7 linked regions of the Homo sapiens genome follow. The protein of the gene in region 1 interacts with the protein of each later gene in a biochemical or structural test. Each region holds a gene or a part of one and is shown on either strand. Other genes may lie near its edges.

Region 1 (3,500 bases):
CTCCCCAGTAGACCATCTGAGTCCCATGAGACTGCAGGCCCTGTGTTTTCTCCATCTCTCTCTTTAAGTACATTATTGCCTCTGCTTTACATTGTCAGGAACAGTTTTGAGATTTAAATGATATATAACCTGAACTGAATACTGGTTCTCTTTGCTTCCATTTGTTATGCCTTTTTTCCTTGTTAAATGAATGTGTATGCATGCATGTGTGTATACACATGTACATATCATGATGGTCCTCAGAATGTTTCAGTACAGAAGGTAGAATGCTTCTGCTACATTTGTAACTCACAGGTCAAGTCAAATTAATTTTCTTTCTTTTTTTTTTTTTTTTTTTTTTTGGAGACAGGGTCTCCCTCTGTCACCCAGGCTGGAGTGTAGTGGCGTGATCTCAGCTCACTGCAACCTCCCCATCCTGGGCTCAAGAGAGCCTCCCACCTCAGCCTCCTGAGTAGCTGGGACTACAGGTACAAGCCACCACACCCGGCTAGTTTTTGTTTTTTTTTTTTTGTAGAGATGGGGTTTTGCCATGTTGCCCAGGCTATTCTCGAACTTCTGAGCTCAAACAATCTGCCTGCCCCAGCCTTCCGAAGTGCTGGGATTACAGGTGTGAGCCACCACACCCAGCCAGTGATTTATTTCTGATATTATATTTACTACAAGAATTCTTTTCTATGTGTGAAAATTCGTTTTATATAAATGGAGAAACACTGTAGCTCTGTATTGAAATGTTCCAAGGATCATTGTGGTAATTCTGCTTTCCCTAATCTTAAATCCAACCAAAATTATGTTTTCAATAATTCCCATTAATTGTTATTTAGCATTACATGTGTGTATTTGTAGCCTTATTTTCATTCTGTCACCTTTTAAACCTACGGATGGATAGTTTCTTTAGTGTGGATTTTTAAAAATAATCCCTTGTACATCATACTTAGGACTTGACAGTTTCTGTGGAATTTGTATTACTTACTCATAACTAGAGTGAATGTTTATTGGGAACACTTCATCATCAACTACTGGTGGCATCTAAGTACTATAATTATATGTATAGATCAAATAAGTAGTTTATTTTATTTATTTAGTTTTTTAGAGACGGGGTCTCACTCTGTCACCCAGGCTCCATGGAGTGCAGTGGTGTGATCATGGCTCACTGCAGCTTCGAACTCCTAGGTACAAGTGATCCTCCTGCCTCAGCCTCCTAAAGAGCTAGGACTATAGGCACATGCTTCCATGCCTAATTAAAAAAAAAAAAATTTGGCCAGGTGCAGTGGCTCACACCTGTAATCCCAGCACTTTGGGAGACTGAGGTGGGCAGATCACGAGGTCAAGAGATTGAGACCATCCTGGCCAACATGATGAAACCCCGTCTCTACTAAAAACTAAAAAAAAAAGATTAGCTGGGTATGGTGGCGCACACCTGTAGTCCCAGCTATTCGGGAGGCTGAGGCAGGGGAATCACTTGAACCCAGGAGGCAAAGGTTGCACTGAGCCGAGATCGTGCTACTGCACTCCAGCCTGGTGACAGAGTGTGACTCCGTCTCAAAAAAAAAAAAATTTTTTTTTTTTTGGTAGAAACAGGATCTTGTGTTGCCCAGGCTGGTCTCAAACTCCTGGCCTCAAGTGATCCTCCAGCCTCCGCCTCCCTAAGTGCTGGAATTACAGGCGCGAGCCACCATGCCTGGCTCGTAGTCAGTTTTTTTTGTTGTTGTTGTTTTTGAGATGGAATCTCACTCTGTCGCCAGGCTGGAGTGCAGTGGCGCAATCTCGGCTCCCTGCAACCTCTGCCTCCTGGGTTCAAGCGATTCTCCAGCCTCAGTCTCCCGGGTAGCTGGACTACAGGCGCATACAACCACGCCTAGCTAATTTTTGTATTTTTAATAGAGACGGGGTTTCACCATGTTGGCCATGCTGGTCTCAATCTCCTGACCTTGTGATCTGCCCGCCTTAGCCTCCCAAAGTGCTGGGATTACAGTCATGAGCCACCGAACCCAGCCCAGTTTTTTGTTTTTTAACCTTACTACTGTCAGGGTTTGAGCAGAATAAATGGAATGTGACAGTGATCTGCTTTTTCTGAACTTTATTCCATAGTAGAATCTCAAAGTAGTTGAGTTCTGCTCTTATTTGTGTTCTAAATACTTGGTAAAACAAAACAAAAATTTGGATTTTCTTTTTAAAAAACACATACACACACCAAAAACACAAGACACATCAGATGAGTGTTATGTTGGGAAGGCTGCTTATGTGGAGACGTTACTTCTTTTTTTAATCTCTAGAGTAGTTTTTCAAATGTTACATAATGGTAGTAATTTAATTTAGACTCCATCACATAGAATTTTGAAACAGTTTCCTTTAACTAGTTTTAATACTATTCTGCATTTGCTCAAAAATATTATTCAATCTGTTTAATCCATAATATCAAAATATATCATTTAAATAACCTTCCCTAGCCAAGGAATGACAAGAATTAAGACTAGAACTACATCTCTTAAGTCCTAGACTAGTGAATTTCCAAAGTGAGTAACAAATTATCTTTTATACTTTGAAAAATTTGAAGGTTTTAATAAATTCAAGGTGGAAGTACTTTTTATTCCAGGTTTTAAAAACATTGATTTACATTGAAGTCAAGAAGTGGTATGGAACATACCCAAAGAATGCACGTTTGCCCTTGAGTCCATACCTACACCAAATGCCTTGCAATCCTTGCCCACTTATATTTTTATCATGGTATGTTTCAGGGTTTATACAGTGAATGATAATGAAATGAATAATGAAATGTCCTTAATACTACAACAAAATATAGCCTTGTCCAAAATGAAGAGTAAATCAATACTATATTATATGTCTGTATAAACTGGTCGTGATAGGAGTAGACCAGGATAATAGAGATGACGTGGACTTTTTTTTTTTTTCTTTGAGACAGGGTCTCTGTCACCCAGCCTGGGGTGCAGTGGTGCAATCTCAGCTCACTGCAGCCTCAACCTCCAGGGCTCAAGCAATCCTCCCACCTCTGCCTCCCAAGTAGCTGGGACTATAGGCACTTGCCATCAACCTGGCTAATTTTTGTATTTTTTGTAGAGATGGGATTTCGCCTTGTTGCCCAGGCTGGTCACAAACTCCTGAGCACAAGCGAACCACCTGTCTTGGCCCCCCAAAGTGCTGGGATTACAGGTGTGAGCCACCGTCCCCAGCCTCACATGGACATTTTGAAATAAAACCATATTCTTCCTTTTGTTTTATGTTTATTATGGATTACAAATTTATTTGGCAATTAAAAGTAACAGACCACTGGACCGTATCATCTCGTGAGTAGCTGAACTGTTGGATAATACTTTTATACTCTTTGATGCTAAAATATAATAAAATTGCCTAAATTTTGCGTGAGATGTTACTTCAATATAATAGAGTTTTTATATGCTATTTGGGTACGGTAGATTTTTCCAATGTGATCTTATATAACTGTAGTTAGTGCTTTTTTGCCTTTTATTAATTTAAATAATTAT
Region 2 (3,500 bases), on another chromosome or scaffold:
TTGGAGACTATAGAAAAGCAAGGATTATAAACAAGAGTCCAGCTAGCAGACTTTTTTCTTTTCTTCTTCTTACTCTCTTTCGCTATAACTGCATCTCTCCAAAGGTGGGGATCTGAGGCATGTATCCACTGATCCCCGCTCCAATTGGTTGAAGGTTGCCATTGAAAGCAGTCCCTCCTGTGCATTTTGAGATTGCTGTTAGGAGCCAGCTGTGATTGCGGGACAGAAAAACTGAGTCTCCAAAGTGTGCTTGAAGTGGGAACAATGGCAGTGTAAATGGAGCTGTCCACCACAGCTGTGCTGAAATCTGGCAGGCTGACAGGACTTAGCACAGAGTTTTTGCTATAGGAGGCCTTTGCAGTAATCTTAATGAGAAATCATGGTGGCTTGGACCACTGTGGAGGTAGCATTGATAAGATCTGCTGATGGATTGGATAACTCACATGAAAGATAGGAGGGAGGATCATCCCAGGATTTTGAAAGTAATGGAATTTTTACTTACTGAGCTAGAGAAGTGTATGAGAGGAGCAGATTTTTGGGAGTCATGGAGGATGAATTGAGTTTGGTTTGGTTTGGGACATATAAGTTTGAGATACTTATTTGACCTCTGAATGGATAGGTAGTTAATAAGCTGGATACTAGAGAGAGGTCTGGGCTAAAGCTGTATATTTGGGAATCGTCATTTTGTAAGTTGTGTTTACATCTATGAGACTACAGACTCCTTTAATGAATAAGCATAAAGAGGTCTGCTGGGGCACTACAATATTTTCATGTCAAGGAATGAGAAAGGACTAATCAAAGATACAAACAAAGAGGGACCAATGAGGTAAGAGGATAGGAAGAGAGAATGGGTTCCCAGAAGCTCAATGAAGAAAGTATTTCAAGAAGGAGCTGATTAGGTGCTGCTGATGTGTTCTCATTCAGGTTTCAGTTGGAACAAGGGGAATAAAGGGAGGACTGAGGTGTTATATTTAATAATAGTTCACTGGAGATACCAAAACACCTTTGTTGGTGAAATAGTGGGGATGGCACCCTGTTTTCAGTGAGCTTAAGAGAATATGAGGGGAGAGGAATTAGGAAAAAGAGAGTAGAGACAATGCTTTATAAAGGAGTATCGCTGTAAAGTAGATGACTATATAATGACTGATCATGGAATTTAAGTTCAGTAAAGAAGGAGGTGAGAGAAGTGAAAGGTATAGGACCAATGGATTGTAGATCCTGGAGAGGTTAAAGAATTTTTGGAGTAAGGAAACTGGAGAGAGTGAGCTGGAAAAATAGTGGTAGTTGTGAAGAATGAGGTGTTTGAAATTGAGCTTATAGAGGACATGTAGGTACAAGTAAGACTAAATGTGGGAGTTGGTGGCTGAAGGAGGTAGAAGACAAGATCATTGGTGAAGAGGAGGTCAGTGACTTGATGATTCAAGTATAGGAAAGGTTATCTGTATGGGTATTGAAATCATTAAGAATGATGACAGGAAAAGTATTGGAGAGTGATAATAAGGTAGGTGCTAAGTCTTTGTGAAATGTGAGGAAACGACGTGGGCATTTACAGATGAATTCAACAGAGCATGGCGGCAGGTGGTATAGGCTAATGGCATGAGCTGCAGAGGTAGGAGGTTTTAGGGAGGAAGGTGGGGTAATGGCCTGGAAGTGGCAATGGAAAATAAGGAGGATATTCATCCCTCTCTGGCTTCAAGGGGTGTGGAAGAGAAACAGCCACCACTAGAGAAGCCTGCAGGGAAACAGTTTCTCATCCAAGTTTCAGTTAGAGCAAGAAGGGAAAGGCAATGTTCAGAGAAGAGTTTGAGGATATAGTTTATTAATAGTGTTAATAAACTGGTACAGTGGGAAAACTGTTGACTACTTTGGCATATTAGGAATGTTTTAATTAAAGTGGAAAAGAGAAAAATGAAACAAAAATTGGTGGTGTAATAAACAATTGTCACTTTAAAATAATGATTTCATTAATTCCTCAGAAAAGTAAGACTATTTTTCCACATGCTGGTTCTTTGCTTGTTATATCCTCCAATCCCACCTCCCACCAACCCCTCCCTGGTTTGTCCTAGGGAAGGAGCTGGAGAGAGAAAAATATTGAGAGGGATGTGAAATTACTAATGGAGTGAGGGTTTTGTAGAGACAGAAGAGAACAGGATCCTGAGCACAAGCTGAGGTTTTAAGAATGTGTGCATAATTGTGTTAATGGGTCAAAGAGATGGGGAATTGTTTTCCATCTGATGGCTTCTATTTTCTCATTAAAATAGGAAGTAAAGCCATCTGTTTTGTATGATGTAAAAGGGGGCAGGGTTTGGTAGAGGTTGATGTTGCCTTGCTGGAGAATGGGAAATAGCTCACTTGATAAAGAAATATTTCTAGACAAATTATAAAATCTGTTTAGGCTAAGAATTCATTTTGTAAAGGCACCGGTTTCGGTGGTTTGATGAACTTCTCTAGAAGTCTCAGCATACTGGGTACAGGAATGGAATAGCCAGATAACTGGATTAATTCAGATTGGGGTTTGTTGACAGAGATAGAATAAAAGGATTAAGGGCAGAGAACCAAGGAGGCTGTTAGGCAGGTGTTTGAAGGAATGTACTATATAGCATATGATTAAGATATGGAAGGTAGCAGAGATAGAAGGAGACCGAAAAGGAGAAAGAAAAGAATTCAACATTCTGGAGATCTTGATGAGGTAAAGGGATTGGTATATTGGGTTAAGGGCATGAGATACCTGGAAAGACGTGGTGTTTTTCAGGGAATGGGAAGTTGGAATATAAGATTTCAGATGTGGTACAGTTCCAGATAATGACAAAAGTCTGAGATGTGTCTTTTGAAGTGCATGGCTGAAGCACAGTGGAGGAGATAATGTTTGGAGTGAAGGAACTGGAAAAACTGACAGCCTAGATGCTAGAGGATTAGATGGTTTGTCCACATGTATGGTGAAGTCACCAGATATATTGGCAGGAACTGGGATAGACAGGGACCCAGGTGCTGAAGTCTTTAATGAAGGAAGGATGGTGCTTACGAGATAGAAGACAGTGTTGATTGGAGTCGAGGGTGATCTAGCTGGATGGTGGCCTTAAAGCAGCATTACTTTGTAGATGTTTATGTGACTAGAACAGCGAGATGGGTTGAGGTTCTGGTGTATTTGTGTGTATTATTCTTTCCTCACACCATCATATACCTGTTGTTTATCTCTTCTGCTTCTACTTCTTAATTACTTGTAAGATTTTTTAAAAGTCAATAGCTTTATTCATAGAAAATAACTAATGAATAATTGTGACCTTGTTGAGTTTAACGGCTCATTTTTCTTATTTCTTTGTGGAGACTAATACGATTGGTTTACTGGGCAGGAGGAACTAGACATTAGAACACTGCAAACCAAAAATCGCAAGCTGGCAGAAATGTTGGATCAGCGGCAGGCCATTGAAGATGAACTTCGTGAGCACATTGAAAAACTGGAACGACGACAGGCCACTGATGATGCCTCACTATTGATTGTC
Region 3 (3,500 bases), on another chromosome or scaffold:
GTCCTAAAAGCCCTCTGGCAAGACTGGAACAAAGCTCTTGTGAAATTGGAGGGTTTTTTTGGGTTTTAATTTTGGTTTTGGTTTGTTTTTGTTTTTTTTTTTAATCTTCTGCTTCCTTTTGTTGTCTAAGTAATGCTTTGCTTGGCCTCTCATACTTTTTTTTTTTTCTCTTAAATAAAGAGACAGGGATTGTACTTTGTCTCCCAGGCCTGCAGTGCTGTGACATGATCATGCAGCCTTGAACTCTTGGGCTCAAGTGATCCTTCCACCTCAGCCTCCCAAATAGCTGGCACTGTAGGTATGTGCCACCACACCTGGGTAATTTATGTTTTTAGAGATGAGGTCTTGTGTTGGTCCAGCTGGTTTCAAACAACTGGGCTCAAGTTCTTCCATCTCAGCCCCAAGTGGCTGGGCTTACAGGCGCAAGCCAGCGTGCCCAGCTCTCCTATACATCTTTTGAAGTGGGTCAGCTGAAAGGAAAAAACCCCTAAAACTAGAATGAGGTGCTCTTCTCCAACATTCTCATTTTTCTTGAGCATTCAGTTATATGTCTCATATGCTGCTAACACTTGATATATTAGCTTCCATTCATCCCCTTTCTCCTTTCTTACTTTGTTTTTGTTTGTTTGTCTAGAGACAGAGTCTCCCTCTATCACCCAGGTTGGAGTGCAATGGCATGATCTTGGTTTACAACAACCTCCGCCTCCTGAGTTCAAGCAATTCTCCTATCTCAGCCTCCCGAGGAGCTGGGATTACAGGTGCCTGCCACCAAGCCCAGCTAATCTTTGTATTTTTAGTAGAGACGAGGTTTCGCCATGTTGGCCAGGCTGGTCTCGAACTTTTGACGTCAGGTGATCCGCCCGCCTTGGCCTCCCAAAGTGCTGGGATTACATGCATGAGCCACCGTGCCTGGCCACTTCTACTTGTCCACATTACTTATTTCTTTCTGTCCTAGGGCCACCTAGCCTCCTTTTGTGGCACTGTGTGAGGAATGTGGGTTAGATCAGCTGCTCAGAACTCCAGGGTCCCTCATTGTAGGGCTTCCTGATAGTTGTTTGACCATCAGTAAGCTCCTGACCTTTGAGCCTTCCTCATTTGTAAAACGGTTTTTATAGGTGACATCAAGGTTCTGTGAAGTAACGGAAAATGTTTGGCAGCACCAAAGCGCTTTCTAAGAGATGAATACTGCCATGTTCAAAACCCTCTTTCATAGTTTGTAGTCCTTTTTTTTTTTTTTTTTTTTGAGACAGAGTCTCGCTCTGTCGCCCAGGCTGGAGTGCAGTGGCGTGATCTCTGCTAACTGCAACCTCTGCCTCCTGGGTTCACGCCATTCTCCTGCCTCATCCTCCGGAGTAGCCGGGACTACAGGCGCCCGCCACCACGCCTGGCTAGTTTTTTGTATTTTTAGTAGAGACAGGGTTTCACCGTGTTAGCCAGGATGGTCTGGATCTCCTGACCTCGTGATCTGCCTGCCTCCCAAAGTGCTGGGATTACAGGCGTGAGCCACTGCGCCCGTCCTATAGTTTGTGCTCTTTTTTATTCAAATACAGAGTGAGCCACGATGATTGCTCTTATGCTAATAGGAACTCTAAGATACTTTCTGGCCCAAGTATAGATGGAAAAAATACAACAAATACCAGCCTAACAGAATTTTGGGATGTACCCTGAAGGTGGCAAACCAATACAGAGGGTGTTAATTCAGCCTCAGCCAAGCATGGATGCTTGGACATAGGTGTTTTTGTGGTCCTGATAGGAAAACTGGTTTTATATGGACACAGGGCCCAGTTGTGACAAACTAGGTAGAAATGTGATGACATCTTCAGGATTGGTGTCAAGTTATAGCCCTCTTACCTAACTTAGATTGATGCACCATACATAGAAAGATCCATTGGCTTGGGGAAGCAATGTCAGGTTGGCATTTTCATAGCTTATTTCTCAAAAGCCTAGTAGTGAATGTATATTACTGGTTGTATCCTAACATTTTCTCCAGAGAGTGGCTGTTAATTGCTGCATGTCTGTAAGCATGAACTGGAAGGGTCTTTTCCATCTGTGGCAGTATGTATGTTTTGGAAGCAGCTCTTTGGTTCTCTTGGAAACATTATTTCTGCCTGGGCATCTTGGAACAACCAGAATCTTGCCCATAAGAAATTTAGAGACCTTGACTTAAAACCTTGAGGCATGGTCTGTGAGTATTTTTCTTGTGCTGCAAACCTTGGACATCACTGACCCTCGCAAGATAGGGGGAGGTTCTCACTTGAGGAGAGTCCCCTGGAATAAAAGTGTTTGATTGAAGAGCATATTACAGGCTACCTGCCTGCCTCAGAGCAACTCAAGAGTCCCCAAGATGGGAGAGGGTACTGTGTAGGAATATTCATTTAACAGTATGCAATAGTATAAGGCCAGACGTCGTAGCTCACACCTGTAATCCAGCACTTTGGGAGGCTGAGGCAGGAGGATCACCAGAGGTCAGGAGTTTGAGACCAGCCTGCCCAACATGGCAAAACCCAATCTCTACTAAAAATACAAAAAATTAGCTGGGCGTGGTGGCAGGCACTTGTAATCCCAGCTACTTGGGAGGCTGAGGCAGGAGAATCACTTGAACCTGGGAGGCAGAGGTTGCAGTGAACTGAGACTGCGCCACTGCACTCAAGCCTGGGCGACAAGGGCGAAACTCTGTCTCAAAAAAAAAAAAAAACAGTAGGCAATAGTACAGCCTAGGGAACCATACAAGATTGTAGGTGATCATGGTACCAAGAGTAGGCCTGCTCACAATGAAAAGGCCCCTTTTGATATGAGACAGACTCAACATCTTGGAAGCATTTTATCAAGCGCCAATAGAGGCTGGATATATGACTAAACACCGTGGGGTGGAGGGGGCCGGGAGAGTGGGATTTGCCAGGGAGTAAATGAGCTCCATTATTGTGAGGGCAGACAGATTGTGATAATTGGGCATCAGTATATCTTAGTTACACATGCCAGAATGATGGTTTGCATGACAGAAGTACAGTGGGCCTTGTGGAGGTTATTTGTGATGCATCCTGGGGCAAAAGTTCGGGGGTGGAAGAGCCATCAATTTTAAGGAAGAAATCATTTAGAAACTGAAATTTGGGCTGTGAAGGTGCTAAGAGAAGAAAGATGTGTTCCAAGTATTGGAGGGAGACCTCTTGGGCCTCAAAGGGCCTCTGTACAGAGGATGTTTAACATGGAGTCTGGTGATAAGAATGGGGTAGCAGAGCTGGGTGCAGTGCTGGGCAGTGTTGAATGGGACTTGTATTCAGAGCCCAGGCATCAGTTTACCCTTCTACCACAGGAGGGTGAGGATGTACCCGGATGTGAAAGGAGTACTCTCTCACCTTACGTGATGCATTATTTCAGACATTTCTTGAGTAGTAAAGGCACAGCCAAAAGGGCTTTCCTGTCATCTCAGGCCTTGCCTAACAGCCAGCATGGTGTCTTTTCCTACCTACCAACTCAAAATACAGATTTGTTTCCATGGTTTC
Region 4 (3,500 bases), about 25 Mb from region 1:
GGCCAGGCTGGTCTTGAACTCCTGACCTCAAGTGATCTGCCTGCCTCGGCCTCCCAAAGTGCTGGGATTACAGGCGTGAGCCACCGTGCCTGGCCCCAATTCATTTCTTATTGAAGTATAACTTATATACAATAAAATGCACCGGGTGTGGTGGCTCATGCCTGTAATCCCAGCACTTTGGGAGGCTGAGGTGGGCGGATCACGACGTCAAGAGATCGAGACCATCCTTGCCAACATGGTGAAACCCCATCTCTATTAAAAATACAAAAATTAGCTGGGCATGGTGGCACACACCTGTAGTCCCAGCTACTCAGGAGACTGAGGCAGGAGAATTGCTTGAATCCAGGAGGCAGAGGTTGCAGTGAGCCAAGATCGTACCACTGCACTCCAGCCTGCTGACAGAGTGAGACTCTATCTCAAAAAATAAAATGAAATAAATAAAATGCACAGACTCTTATCACACAGTTTGATGAGTTTTGACAAATGGATTCGCTCATGTATCCACTACCCCAATCACTATACAGAGCATTTCTATTACCCCAGAAATGTCCTTGTGTGCCTCCCTTTTGAAGCCCCCCACCCTGGGGCAACCACCGTTCTGATCTCTCCCACCACAGAGTGGTTTTTTCGGTTCAGAGCCTCACATAAAGGGGATCAGACAGTATGGAATCTTGTCTCTGGCTTCTTTTGCTCAATGTAATGTTTCTGAGATTCATTTATGTTGTATCGGTAGTTCATTTCCTTTGGTTGCTAAGTAGAACTTCACCAAATGGATACACTGCCACTTGTTTATTCCTTCACCTAGTGATGCACATTTGAGTTATTTCCAATTTGGGGATATTTTGAATAAAGCTGCTATGAACTCAAAGGGAATTTTACTTTATCTAGATGGTCTGACCTCCATACAAGTCCTTGTTCACGGATAGCATGTCATTTACAAAAATAATCACCCCCACCCACCAAAGGCCCTGCTCCTCTGGTCTCCCATCTGCTTTCTTTGCATTCTTGATCCCCCCACTTCTGTCTCCTGCCATCCCCAAGAGATGCTGCCACATCTGGATCCTCAGGACTCTGTCTGCCCTGACACTGTCTCAGGTCATCGTGCCCACTCTTACCCATCAAAGCTCTCCGGCAGAAATGCCAGGCTCCCAAAGATCTTCTTGCAGCCAGCAAACTCCTGGATATTGGCACTGGTAACTGCCCTCACCTCTCGCAAGTGCTCCATGCCCAGACCATAGCACACTGAGGAGGTGGGGGTGGGTGGGGAAGGGGCCGTCTCAGCCTTCATACCGGGACAGGTCAACAGCCACATGAGCATCAGGGTCCGGGCCCCTCCCCACACTGACAGGGGATATAGGGACACTTGTAGGGCTGAGGGGGGCCAGGGGTAGAGAGTAGAAGGCAGAGACTAGGTCCCAAGAGGGTCTGAGGAAGGATAGGACAGGGTGGGCTGGGCCAGGCTGCATGCGCAGAGGGACAGGAACTGCAGCTGGCCTCGGGGGCAGTGAGTGGGTACCTCGGGCACAGGGCTTGCTGCACTTCTCACACCGCTGTGTTCCATCCTCTGCTGTCACCTCTTGGTTGTGCAGGGGGCAGACGAGGGTGCAGGATCCCACGTCCGTAGAAAGGTAGTTGTCTAAGGAGATCAGGAACATGTAGCCACATACCCTGGCCCTTCGTGCACCACCATGAGCAGCATTACCGTGCCCAGGCACAAGAAGAATAATATCAACCAATACTTAAATGCCCTACCACGCATCAGCACCTGACATCCATTTACCCCTCACAACAACCAGACGGGATCAGCACTGTGAGATTCCCATTTTGCAAAAAGGGAGACCAAAGCAGAGAGTTCTGTAAATTATTCAAGGTCATTGTGCTAGTGAGTGGAGGAGCGAGGATTTGAACCCAAATGGTCTGGCTCTACATTTTGTCCTCTCCCTAACACAGTCAGCCAGGATCTGAAGGCCCACTCCTGTTCCTGTGAGAGGAGGAAAGAGGTTCCCCAGGTCTGAGCCCAGTCCATAAACGCCCATCAGTAAATAGGTGATCTGTTAAATAAAACTGAGCTAGGCCAGGCACGATGGCTCATGCCTGTAATCCCAGCACTTTGGGAGACCAAGGCGGGTGGATCACTTGAGGTCAGGAGTTCGAGACCAGCTTGGCCAACATAGTGAAACTCCGTCTCTACTAAAAATACAAAAATTACCCAGCCATGGTGGTGCATGCCTGTAGTTCCACCTACTCAAGAGTCTGAGGCACAAGAATTGCTTGAATGCGGAAGGCAGAGGTTGCAGTGAGCCAAAATTGCACCACTGCACTCCAGCCTGGGCAATGGAGCGAGACTCTGCCAAAAAAAAAAAAGTCCGGGTGCAGTGGCTCACGCCTGTAATCCCAGCACTTTCAGAGGCCGAGGCAGGTGGATCGCCTGAAGTCAGGAGTTCGAGACCAGTCTGGCCAACGTGGTGAAACCCTGTCTCTACTAAAAATACAAAATTTAGCGAGGCATGGTGGTGGGCGCCTGTAATCCCAGCTACTCAGGAGGCTGAGACACGAGAATAGCACGAACCTGGGAGGCGGAGGTTGCAGTGAGCCGAGATCGCGCCACTGCGATAGAGCTAACTAAATTCGGTCTCAAAAACAAAACGAAAGGTAAAACTGACCTCACCAGGCTATAGAATAAAAGCTAACATTTAGGAGCACTTAGTACATACCAGGCACCGTTCTAAGAGCTTTACAAATATTAACTCTTTCAAATGTTATAACCATCTTATGCAGTTGGGACTATTCTTGCCCCCATTTTACTGATGAGGAAACTGAGGCACAGCAAGAGGGTCACGTGCCTACTAATTGATAGAGCTGGGTTTCAAACCCAGGCAGTCTGGCTCCCAAGTCTGGGCTCTTAGCTGCCTCTCCTTACTGCCACCTGCTCCACAGCTGTTGAAAGAACAAGGCAGCTCGGCAGGAACTGTCATGACCAGCTCTCAAAGCAAGATGCAGACAGTGCTCCCCATATGCTCCCATTTACAGAAACAAACCTCCCCACCAAAATGAGAAAACTGTGTTTCTCCCTGGCACTCACAGGGACAGGCAGTCACACAGCTGGCGCCGAATGTATACCGGCCCTCGGGATTGGGCATGGACTCAAACGTGTCTGTGTTGTAGGTGACCAGGGCTGGGCAGTGCAGCTCACAGATGCCACTGTGGTTGAAGTGGAGGCAGGCCTGGGGGGACAGGTGGCTGGCTTTCACTGTGCTGTTTTGCCCTGGTGTGCCAGGGGCAATAGGGCAGTACCAGGCAGGGTGCCCACCCCTTGCATCCTGGGGGGTAGAGCACATTGGGCACAAAGCAGAGGCACATACCAGGCAGTCAGAGTGCTTGGGGCCCGTGCAGCCGGCAGCACACTGCTCATGGCAGCAGTCAGTGGGCAGTGGCCCCTTGCAGCGGGCACAGCCACCGGCACAGACAGTGCGCGTCACTGTTGGGCAAAGGGCAGGATG
Region 5 (3,500 bases), on another chromosome or scaffold:
CATACTGCTTGTTACAGCATGCAGGTATTTTGTGAATTTGCATACCAAATACTCCAAGGGAACCCAGACTATGTCTTCATTGTTGACTTAGCTTCCAGAATAGTGCCTGGCATCAAGTAGTAGGGGGTTCGTAGATATTTATATAAATAATAAAATACAAAAATATGGATTCTTCCAGAATAAAGCATATTAACCCTGGAAACATGAATTTTGTGATTCTATTTTTTATTTGTCAAGCATTTAGTATTTTTACAATATCATGGTATGATATTGAGGAGGTAAAATTAAAATATCCTGAGATGTATTCTCTCTTTTATCAGTGTAGGTGATAATGTACTTAAAGGTAAGTAATTTGTAATGCATTCTTAGAAAGGCAGTGACCACAAATGTATTAAAATATATTTTAAGAAAAAATTGGATTGCATAAACTAATATGGTTATAAGTGACTCCAAATCTAAAATGATAACCTTGTTAGGTTTAAATCTGTATCATCTAACAGAAATTTGAGGGCCAGTCAATAGTCACTGACTATGAATTTAAAATATTCTTTTAAAATAAACATAGATGCTTATGTGAGCTCAGTTGATAGAAATGTAGTCAGATGAGGCGGAGGCCATAAGTTAGGTTTCCACACGGTCTAAATTGATGTTTGCCCCAGGTACAAAGGGCACATTATCCAAATATTTGAAGCATTCTCTAAGGAAGGTTCAGAGAGGCAATGTGGGCTTATCCATGAAGACCCATCACTGTTATTAGAGTGGAAGTAAGGACTGCAAACTTCATGCTCATAAATGATTGTGTCATTTTCATACTAGAATTTTACCACACACACACTCACACTCACACACACACACACACACACTTTGTATGGTGATTTGCCTCCCCCCTTTATTTTTGCAGACTATGCTTAAAGATATTAAACAAACAACTAGTTTTGCTATTAACATTTGGTTGAAAATTTAGCTTTCAATTAGGTGACAAACTGATTAATGATTTTTTTATGTAGCAAATGGCCAGCCACAGATTTTTGGTAAATAATTTGGTTACCACATTACATCTTGAAGGACTAAATTATTTCACTAATTGTGAGCAGGGATTTTTAAAAATTTGCTCTGAAGAGGACATATTGTGGATGTTGTATTGGAGGGCATCTGTGTACTAATTGAAGATGGTCCTTCATATTACACATCACAAATTAGCTAATTTATTCTTTACAGAAGTATTATGACATCTTCCTTTAGAACTGTGTAGAGTTAGATTACCACTTGAGAGGCAAGGTCATATTAAAATAGATATTATAAAATTGTATAAAAATATTTTATATGAGGATTTATGAGAGCATCCAGAGAATGTGGGTAGAATACTTTTGTGGAATATGAGATAACAATTTTGGTGTCCTGCCATTCTAAAAAATGAAATTTCTTCATTGAAGGTATCACTTACCCTTTCCTCTGCCTTGCTGGAAGGAAATGGCTTTAGGCAAAAGAAAAAGCCATCAGCTCTTGGCAGCTAAAGGTGGAATGAAGTTTGGAGGAATGAAACCCTTCTGGGTGGTGAGGAAAAATGCCAGGCCATGATAAAGTGGGGAAGGAAGAGGGGAATGCCTTGAACAGTGCCAGTAAGCATAATCTGCCACAGACAAGTTTGAATTGACATATGTAGAACTGAATTATTCTATATCTTTTTAGTTCTATAGAGAAAACCGTTCTTTCCACGTCTCTTTTTAAAATAACAACTTACTGTAAGCAAAAAATATGTTGTTGTTGTTTCTTTAACACAGGAGATGAACTATCTTTAGATTTTTTAAAGTGATATAACATGGAGCCAAAAATGCCATATATTACTGTTGAAACCTAACGTTACTTTAACTGTAATTTCCTTGCTATTCATTTTATGATTTCCTCTTGTTATGTCAAGTGTTAGAGAGACTGCTATTACTGATCATAAATTTCTTTAAAATGTCTCCTTGGATTTTTTACAAAGCTTTCTGAATCATTTATCAAAATACAATAAAGCTCTAATTGCACCTAGGATTGTTCACTTGGAAATTTAGAAAGAGTGTGTACATTTACAATTAAGTTAGCATCCTGCCCTGCAATGAATGCCCTTTTTCTTTTTTTTTTTCCTTCTTCTCTCCTACATCTCATCTTCCAAATGTTTGATATGTACGCCAGTAAGGCAAATTTTACTCCACTTTTAGGTCAAACTATTAGTACAAATAATTGGAAAATTGAGCCTCTAAAGAAAGATAAATAAGATTAGAAGCATGCATTAAAATATAAGTATTAAAAACATTCCCATAAGATTTTTAATAAAAATTTTATGTGCTATATGCACACCTAGACTCCCTGTATTATCTGATTTTTAAAGATTCTTTTTTTTTTTTATTTTTTATTTTTTTGAGACGGAGTCTCGCTCTGTCGCCCAGGCTGGAGTGCAGTGGCGCGATCTTGGCTCACTGCAAGCTCCGCGTCCTGGGTTCACACCATTCTCCTGCCTCAGCCTCCGAGTAGCTGGGACTACAGGCGCCTACCACCGTGCCCGGCTAATGTTTTTGTATTTTTAGTAGAGACGGAGTTTCACCATGTTAGCCAGGATGGTCTCAATCTCCTGACCTAGTGATCCGCCCGCCTCGACCTCCCAAAGTGCTGGGATTACAAGCATGAGCCACCGCGCTCAGCCCATTATCTAATGATGATGATGATGATTATTATTATTATTATTATTATTATTATTATTATTATTATTATTTTAACTGGGGGTAATTTCACTGGATGTGGTATCTGTCAACTTTTACTAGTTGCTCCTACACTATATGTTTTTAAATCCAATGTAATTATTTTAAAAATATGTCATCTTCTTGAGAGTCTATACTTTAGAATTTGAAAAAAGAAGTAAATGTAGATATTCAAATCCATGCAGATGAGTAAAACAGGGAAAAATGAGAAAAATGTTTCATGATAATAAAATATTATGTCAGGCACAGCTGGTCACCCCTGCAATCCCATCACTTTGGGAGGCCGAGGCTGGAGGATTGCTTGATCCAGGAGTTCTAGATCAGCCTGGGCAATAAAAGGAAAATCTGTTTCTACAAAAAAATTAAAATTTATATTTCATATATTGATTTAAGCTCTACTAAATGACTATTCTTTCAAGTCTAATAGACAGTGTATCTTTTAGGGCTCAGAGTAAAGATAATTTATTGAGGACATTTTGAATAGGATGAATTAAATGCTTTATTGGTAAGTGATGCCTTTATCTGAGTGATTCCTTCTAGGTAAATATTATGGGACCAATCTTTGTAAATGATCTTTGCATGGAACAAAATATTATAAAGTTGAAGTGATGAATTTGTTTCCCTCTTAACAAAATATGTATTCTTGTTACCCCATTTACAAACTTGGCTCATGGTAATTCAGGTAGGAAAAAGGGAAGTGGCCTACTCAGGGATCAACTGGGAATAAGGTTCTTATAATCCCATGAGATCAGCTGACAGACT
Region 6 (3,500 bases), on another chromosome or scaffold:
ATCTTTGATGATTTCAGAGCTGGTTTAAATACCTGGTTTATAAAGATTTAAAGTACTAGATACTATCTAATACTAAGAATAGATCCTTAGTATTAAAAATGGTTTTATGCTGTCACTACTCGAATGTAATTCAAACAATATTTCATTAAACCATGGGAATTTCTCTTTTTTCTTAGTCCTTGTATAGAATTTTTCAACAATTACTAAATACTTTTTTTCTTCCCTGAGTAATGTCAGTCTAGCTTGTTTCTTTTAATTTCCTCACTTACCACTGTAATTCACATTCTGTGTCTCATATTCATTCCTCTGAAGCCACTTCGCCAGACTCGTTCTCCCATTTATCCTTTAAACAGGGGAATGTAGATCCTTTAGATTTTATCACCCAGTTTACACAAAAGTCACTATTCAAGAAATCTAGCATAAGCCTAGTAAGTAGCCTCAGTTTTGGATACAGATTAAAATTATTTGAGGGAAGGGTCAAAAATGGCTCCTTACAAAGAAGGAAATAAGTTCCAATTATAATATAAAACAGAAAACCCCTGTAGGATTAACCTGCATTTGATTATGTCTAGACTGCCTTTACTACTTCCATCACTAAGATTCTACATGGTTTCCTTATAGCTCTCCAAAAAGAAAAGAGTAATGATGCCTTTTTTTCCTCCAAGGAATGGAGAACTAAGAATGCTAACTGTCCCTTCCATTCTCCCTTTAGTTTTGAGAAGACCCAGATATTAGCGTGGTAATTCCCCACCATAAGAGAAAATCATTTAGCAGAAGTACCAGTAGCAAGGACTTCTTTGTGAAGGAAGTCAAAGATCTCACAAAGAAGTTCAAGGGTGGCTCTGAGGCCAGGGTATTCTAAGTTTAGAGCCAGTTAAATCAAGACCTGAGAACATTTAGAGACAAAGTTACTTAACTGAAAAGAGCATCAAGTTCCTTGTTCCAGGTAGAAAACACCTGGTAATCTGGATTGATTTCTGTTATTTACCCATATGTTTTTACAGCTTAACAAAGTTTAACAGGTTAGTCAAGAGATTTGCCTTTGATAAAAAGATGGGAAATTTATATTCATACATTTGAATGGATTTCAAGCTGAAGAACTTTTTAATTCTCAGGAGAGATGTAGCTAAGTATTTATATGTACCACATAGTTGTGGCTATGGTTTACAATAACTTATTACTCATTTACTATGTTAAGAGCATTTTAAAAGTTCTCTAGATACAGGTTCCATATATAATGTAATATATTTATTCCAAATATATTACATATATGAAATACATGGTAGTATTCTCATTTTACCAGTACAGAAACTGGGATAGTTAAATGTATATGGTCATAACACTTAGTCAGTGGTAGAGCAGGAGGTCTAACTTAAAGCTTGCATTTTAAATTCTAAGTGTACTGCCTGCCTATGTGTGATAGAGCCATACCCAGATTATGGAAGCAACTTTTTGAAAGACAAATACTTGAAAGTATTAAAATCAAGAAATGACAGCTTTGTAATACTTGTTAAACACATTTTCATTTGTTATTAATATCAAGAGCCTCTAGAATTTTGTGAGTCTTCTTGTTTTAGCCTTGTAGTCTCAGCAGTCTCATTTCTAATTAACATATCTCTGTTTTGATACAGATAGTGTCTCCCATTTCCTGCAAATTATTTGCTTTTTCCTGCTTTTGGGGCCTTTATGCCCCATTTCTGTTGTTTCAGATACTTCTTAAAAATTACTGACTTTCATTTCAAAACCTAGTTCAAAGTCAGTCTCTAAAACCACCTCTAATCTCATCCAAATTTGTGGCCCCTCCATTCTTTGCTTTTAAAATATATATGTATATATAAAACAGCTTTATTGTGATGCTATTCACATACCTTACAATTTGCCCACTTAAAGTGGACAGTTCACTGGGTTTTAGTATACTCGAAAGAGTTGTGCAGCCATGACCATAATCAATTTTGGAATCCAAAAAGGAACCTCATACCCATTAATAGTCACCTCCCATTTCTCTCCCAAACTCCTCTGTTCTAGGCAGCTACTAATCTATTTTCTGTCTTTATATATTTGCCTATTCTGGATATTTTATATAAATGGAATCGTATAGTATGTGCGATTTTTGCATCTTGCTTCTTTTACTTAGCATACATGTTTTCTAGGTTCATGCATGTTATAGCATATATCAATGTTTATTTTTACTGCTGAATGATACAGTCATGAGTCACTTAATGACAAGGATAACTTCTGAGAAATGTATGGTTAGGCAATTTTGTCGTTGTGTGAACATCTTAAGGGGGTACTTACACAAATCTAGATGGGATTGCCTACTACATACCTAGGATGTATTGCCTATTGCTCCTAGGCAAAAAAAACCTGTACAACATGTTACTGTAGTGCATACTGTAGTCAATTCTAATACAATGGTAAGTATATATATATGTGTGTGTGTATAAATATATATATGTGTGTGTGTGTATATATATATATCTAAACATAGAAAAGGTAGAGTAAAAATACAATATTATGATCTTTTTTGTTTTTAGAGACAGGGTCTGGCTCTGTCACCCAGACTGAAATGCAGTAGCCCAATATTGGCTCACATTGCCCTTGATCTCCTGGGCTCAAGCAATTCCACTGCCTCATCCTCCCAATTAGCTAGGACTACAGGCAAGCACCACTGTGTCTATTTTTTATTTTTATTTTTTTGTAGAAATGAGGATCTTGCTGTGTTGCCCAGGCTGGTCTTGAACTCCTGGCCTCAAGCACTCCTCCCACCTTAGTCTTCCAAAGTGTTGGGATTATAGGCATGAGCCACTGTGTCTAGCCAGACATAATGTGTCTGTTATTGACCTAAATGTTGTTATGTGGTATGTGACCATATTCCATTGTATAGATATAACACATTTGATATATCCATTTATCAATTGATAGACATTTGAATTTCCAATTTTTGCCTATTTTGAATAATCCTGCTATGAACATCCATTACAAGTTTTCATTTCTCGTGTATATACCTGTAAGTGGAATTGCTAGGTCCCTGTTTAACTTTTTAAGGAACTGCTAGACTGTTTTTCTAAGTGGCCGTAATTTTACATTGCCACCAGCAGTGTATGAGGGTTCCAGTTTTTTCACCTCGTCAGCACTTATGTTCTTTTTTTTAATATATAGCCATCTTAGTGGATATGAAGTAGTATCTCATTGTAGTTTTGATTTGCATTTTCTTGATAGGTAATGATGTTGAGTATCTTTTCACCTGCTTATTGGCCATTTGTATGTCTTTTGGATGTCTGTCCAGATTCTTTGCCCATTTAAAAAATTTGGTTATTTTGTCTTTTTATTATTGCATTGTAAAAGTTCTCTAGATACAGGTTCCTTATTAAATAGTTAATTTACAAATTTTTCTCCCATTCTGTGGATTTTCTTTTTACTTTCTTGGTAGTGTCCACTGAAACATGGAAGTTTTTATTTTATTGAAATTCAATTTGCCTGTTTTTTCCTTTGTCACTTTT
Region 7 (3,500 bases), on another chromosome or scaffold:
CACACCTGTAGTCCCAGCCACTTGACAGGGTGAGGCAGGAGAATTGCTTGAACCTGGGAGGCAGAGGTTGCAGTGAGCCAAGATCGTGCCATTGCACTCCAGCCTGGGCAACAGAGTGAGACTGTCTCAAAAAATAAATAAATAAAATAACTGTTTGAACAAAAAAATCAATGCTGTGTGTGGAAACTTGAAAATACAGTGTCCTATCACCTGTGGTCTTGCTAAAATGCTGATTATGATTCTGTGGGTCTAAGGTGGGGCACAGGTTTCTGCATTTCTCACAAACTCCCAGGTGATATTGAATGTCTGAGAGCTACACTTTGAATAGCAAGATTCTAGATTTTTTCTGTTTCTTTGAATCCATATTTATGTGGTACTTCTCTAAAATTGCCAGTCTTCTTTCCTGCAACACCCTTCTGCCTTCAAACAGGCCTCTGTGCCCCATCTCTCTCTATCTCCCCCTCTCGCCCCATCCCCTCTTGTTTGTTGCATTTCTTAATTAAATACATAGGAAAGTAGTTACACATGAGATAGCTGTTAATCTGATCTGAAGAAAATATTAATTTAAAAAAGAAAAAAAAGAGCTGTTAATTACCATATAAGTGACATTTTTTATTACAGTTCCTTTTTTTTTTTTTTTTTTTTTTTGAGACAGGTTCTCACTCTGTCGCCCAGGCTTAGGGTGCAGTGGTGCCATCACAGCTTACTGCAGCCTCGACCTCTCAGGCCCAAGCAATTCTCCCATCTGAGCCTCCTGAGTAGCTGGGACTACAGGCGTGTGCTACCACCATACCCAGCCAATTGTTTTATTTTTTTGTAGAGATGCGGTCTCATCGTGTTGCCCACGCTAGTCTAAAACTTCTGGGGTCAAGTGATCTTCCCACCTCATCTTCCTAAAGTGCTGGGATTACAGCCGTGAGCTACCATATCTGACCCCTTTTTGAATTATTATTATTTTTGTTTTGTTTTGCTTTTGAGATGGAGTCTCACTCTGTCGCCCAGGCTGGAGTACAGTGGCACGATCTTGGCTCATTGCAACCTCCGCCTCTTGGGTTCAAGCGATGCTCCTGCCTCAGCCTCCCAAGTAGCTGGGACTACAAGTGCCCACCACCATACCCGGCTAACTTTTGTATTTTAGTAGAGACGGGGTTTCGCCATGTTTGCCAGGCTGGTCTTGAACGCCTGACCTGAGGTGATCCACCCACCTCAGCCTCCCAAAGTGCTGGGATTACAGGCATGAGCCACCGCGCCTGGCCTCATTTTGTTTTTGTTTTGAGACATTCTTACTCTGTCACCCAGGCTGGAGTGCAGTGGTATGATCTCGGCTCACTGCAACCTCCACCTCCCAGGCTCAAGGGATCCTCCCAACTCAGCCTCCCAAGTAGCTGGGACTACAGGTACATGCCACCACACCTGGCTGATTTTCTGTATTTTTAGTAGAGGTGGGGTTTCACCATGTTGCCCAGGCTGGTCTTGAACTCCTGAGCTCAAGTGATCCACCTGCCTTGGCCTCCCGAAGTGCTGGGATTACAGGCGTGAGCCACCATGCCCAGCCGAATGATTCATTTTCAACTGCTGTCTCTGTGTAGCTGACTTCTTCCATATTTTTCTATAAGATTTTACAATTAAATTCTTCCTGATTTAAATCTTGTTACCTTGTCTCTATGGTTCTAAAATTAAATGCATCATCTTCTGTCATAAGCCATATCCCAATACCCATCTCGTGTATTAATCCCATCAATCATTCAGGTGTCTGGAATACAATTCTTTAGAGTCATTTAAAATTACGTGGTCCTTTTATAAGATCTAATTTTTCACTTAAAAGCTCTTTCTGTTTGATTTTTGTTTCCATCTCCATTACCCTCATTCTGGTCTCGGGTCTTACTCATTTATATGTTTATGTCTCTGTAATACATCCAACCAGGTTTTCCTACCGTCATATCCCCTCTAAAGTGTAGTCTAAACCAAGACATGACGTACAAAACCATAATGTGCAGGTCTTCCTTTAGCTTCTTTTTCATTATATTACTCCCTAACCCCAGATCCTTCATTGATTTCCTCATTGCAGATTACTTTGGCAACTGTCTTTACTGTGTGAATCAGTTTTCTCATTCATGTTTTTTAACATACAGTAAAATGCACAGTTCTTAAGGGTTTAGTTCAGTGAGTTTTTGACAATAGCATACGTTCATGTAATTACAAAATCTAAACATTTGTATTCCTACCCCCTCAAGAGTTTCATAGGTTAGTTTTGCTTGTTTTAGAACTTTATATAAATGGAATTATTGAATGTACAATTTTTGTATCTGGCTTCTTTCATTCTGCATAATGTCTACTGTAATCTGTGGTTTATTCCTTCTTATTACTGAATAGTATTCCATTGGATGAATTATATCATAATTTGTTTATCCATTCTCCTGTTGATGGGTGTTTGAGTTATCTCCAGTTTCTGGCTATTATGAAAAAGTCTTCTATGAACATTGTTATACGAGTGTTTTTGTAAACATATGTTTTTATTTCCTTTGGATAAATACCTAAGAATGAAATTACTAGGTCATGTGGTAGATATATGTAACTTTAAAAAGAAACTAAGGGTTTGTACCATTTTATATTCCCACCTGCAGTGTATGAGCATTCCAGTTGCTCTGTACCCTTACTAGACGGTACCCTTGTAGCACCATAAAAATGCTGATGTCAGTCATTTTTATTTTGGCTATTATAGTGTTATAATGTTATATAAATTAAAACACTATATCTAGTGTTATATAATGTTATCTCATTCAAGGCTTAAATTGATTAACATTGATTTTCATTCACCATAGCACTTAGTCATTGCCCCTTGTGTTTGGACAATATAGTACTTCCTTTTGTTTTGTTTTGTTTTGATTTGTTTTTAATTTTTAATTTTTTTTTTTTTTTTTTGAGATGGAGTCTCCCTCTGTCACCCAGGCTGGAGTGCGGTGGCACGATCTCGGCTCACTGCAACCTCCACCTTCGTTCAAGCGTCCACCATGCCTAGCTAATTTTTTTGTATTTTTGGTAGAGACAGGGTTTTGCCATGTTGGCCATGCTGGTCTCGAACTCCTGACCTCAAGTGATCCACCTGCCTCAGCCTCCCAAACTGCTGGGATTACAAGCGTGAGCCACTGTGCCCAGCCAGAACTTCCTTGTATACAGCCTTATTCTATTAATTTTATGTCTAATTGTTTCTTGGTTGTACATCTTCGCTTGATAAAGATTGTTGGCAGGGCTGGATCACATTTCTTTTGTATTTCCTCCAGTGCCTAGGGCAGTATGTTAGGTTTAGGTTCATCTTTTTTTTTTTTTTGGAGATGGAGTCTCACTCTGTCACCCAGGCTGGAGTGCAGTGGCGTGATCCCTGCTCACTGCAACCTCCACCTCCTGGGTTCAAGCATTTCTCCTCCTCAGCCTCCTGCATAGCTGGGATACAGGTGCGTGCCACCACACCCAGCTAATTTTTTTGTATTTTTAGTAGAGAC

Evidence for each region.
Region 2: the proteins of SMURF2 (region 1) and RNF20 form a complex in vitro, tested with the Homo sapiens proteins (one study listed by BioGRID).
Region 3: of the proteins of SMURF2 (region 1) and RHOA, one has a biochemical effect on the other in vitro, tested with the Homo sapiens proteins (3 studies listed by BioGRID, with this or other methods).
Region 4: of the proteins of SMURF2 (region 1) and ERBB2, one has a biochemical effect on the other in vitro, tested with the Homo sapiens proteins (one study listed by BioGRID).
Region 5: the proteins of SMURF2 (region 1) and SCN9A interact in a surface display test, tested with the Homo sapiens proteins (one large-scale study listed by IntAct).
Region 6: of the proteins of SMURF2 (region 1) and USP15, one has a biochemical effect on the other in vitro, tested with the Homo sapiens proteins (one study listed by BioGRID).
Region 7: the proteins of SMURF2 (region 1) and NEDD8 form a complex in vitro, tested with the Homo sapiens proteins (one study listed by BioGRID).

Annotation. Positions count from the first base shown.
Region 1 is NC_000017.11:64,557,808-64,561,307, reverse strand, and holds part of SMURF2 (E3 ubiquitin-protein ligase SMURF2), read left to right. Parts: intron 1-3,500. UniProt on the Homo sapiens protein: E3 ubiquitin-protein ligase which accepts ubiquitin from an E2 ubiquitin-conjugating enzyme in the form of a thioester and then directly transfers the ubiquitin to targeted substrates.
Region 2 is NC_000009.12:101,536,853-101,540,352, forward strand, and holds part of RNF20 (E3 ubiquitin-protein ligase BRE1A), read left to right. Parts: intron 1-3,350; coding exon 3,351-3,500. UniProt on the Homo sapiens protein: Component of the RNF20/40 E3 ubiquitin-protein ligase complex that mediates monoubiquitination of 'Lys-120' of histone H2B (H2BK120ub1).
Region 3 is NC_000003.12:49,370,477-49,373,976, reverse strand, and holds part of RHOA (transforming protein RhoA isoform 1 precursor), read left to right. Parts: intron 1-3,500. UniProt on the Homo sapiens protein: Small GTPase which cycles between an active GTP-bound and an inactive GDP-bound state.
Region 4 is NC_000017.11:39,710,064-39,713,563, reverse strand, and holds part of ERBB2 (receptor tyrosine-protein kinase erbB-2 isoform a precursor), read right to left. Parts: intron 3,479-3,500; coding exon 3,363-3,478; intron 3,225-3,362; coding exon 3,083-3,224; intron 1,637-3,082; coding exon 1,517-1,636; intron 1,243-1,516; coding exon 1,116-1,242; intron 412-1,115; coding exon of another isoform or gene 295-411; intron 1-294. UniProt on the Homo sapiens protein: Protein tyrosine kinase that is part of several cell surface receptor complexes, but that apparently needs a coreceptor for ligand binding. Essential component of a neuregulin-receptor complex, although neuregulins do not interact with it alone.
Region 5 is NC_000002.12:166,369,445-166,372,944, reverse strand, and holds part of SCN9A (sodium channel protein type 9 subunit alpha), read left to right. Parts: intron 1-3,500. UniProt on the Homo sapiens protein: Pore-forming subunit of Nav1.7, a voltage-gated sodium (Nav) channel that directly mediates the depolarizing phase of action potentials in excitable membranes.
Region 6 is NC_000012.12:62,266,904-62,270,403, forward strand, and holds part of USP15 (ubiquitin carboxyl-terminal hydrolase 15), read left to right. Parts: intron 1-3,500. UniProt on the Homo sapiens protein: Hydrolase that removes conjugated ubiquitin from target proteins and regulates various pathways such as the TGF-beta receptor signaling, NF-kappa-B and RNF41/NRDP1-PRKN pathways.
Region 7 is NC_000014.9:24,225,868-24,229,367, reverse strand, and holds part of NEDD8 (ubiquitin-like protein NEDD8), read left to right. Parts: intron 1-3,500. UniProt on the Homo sapiens protein: Ubiquitin-like protein which plays an important role in cell cycle control and embryogenesis via its conjugation to a limited number of cellular proteins, such as cullins or p53/TP53.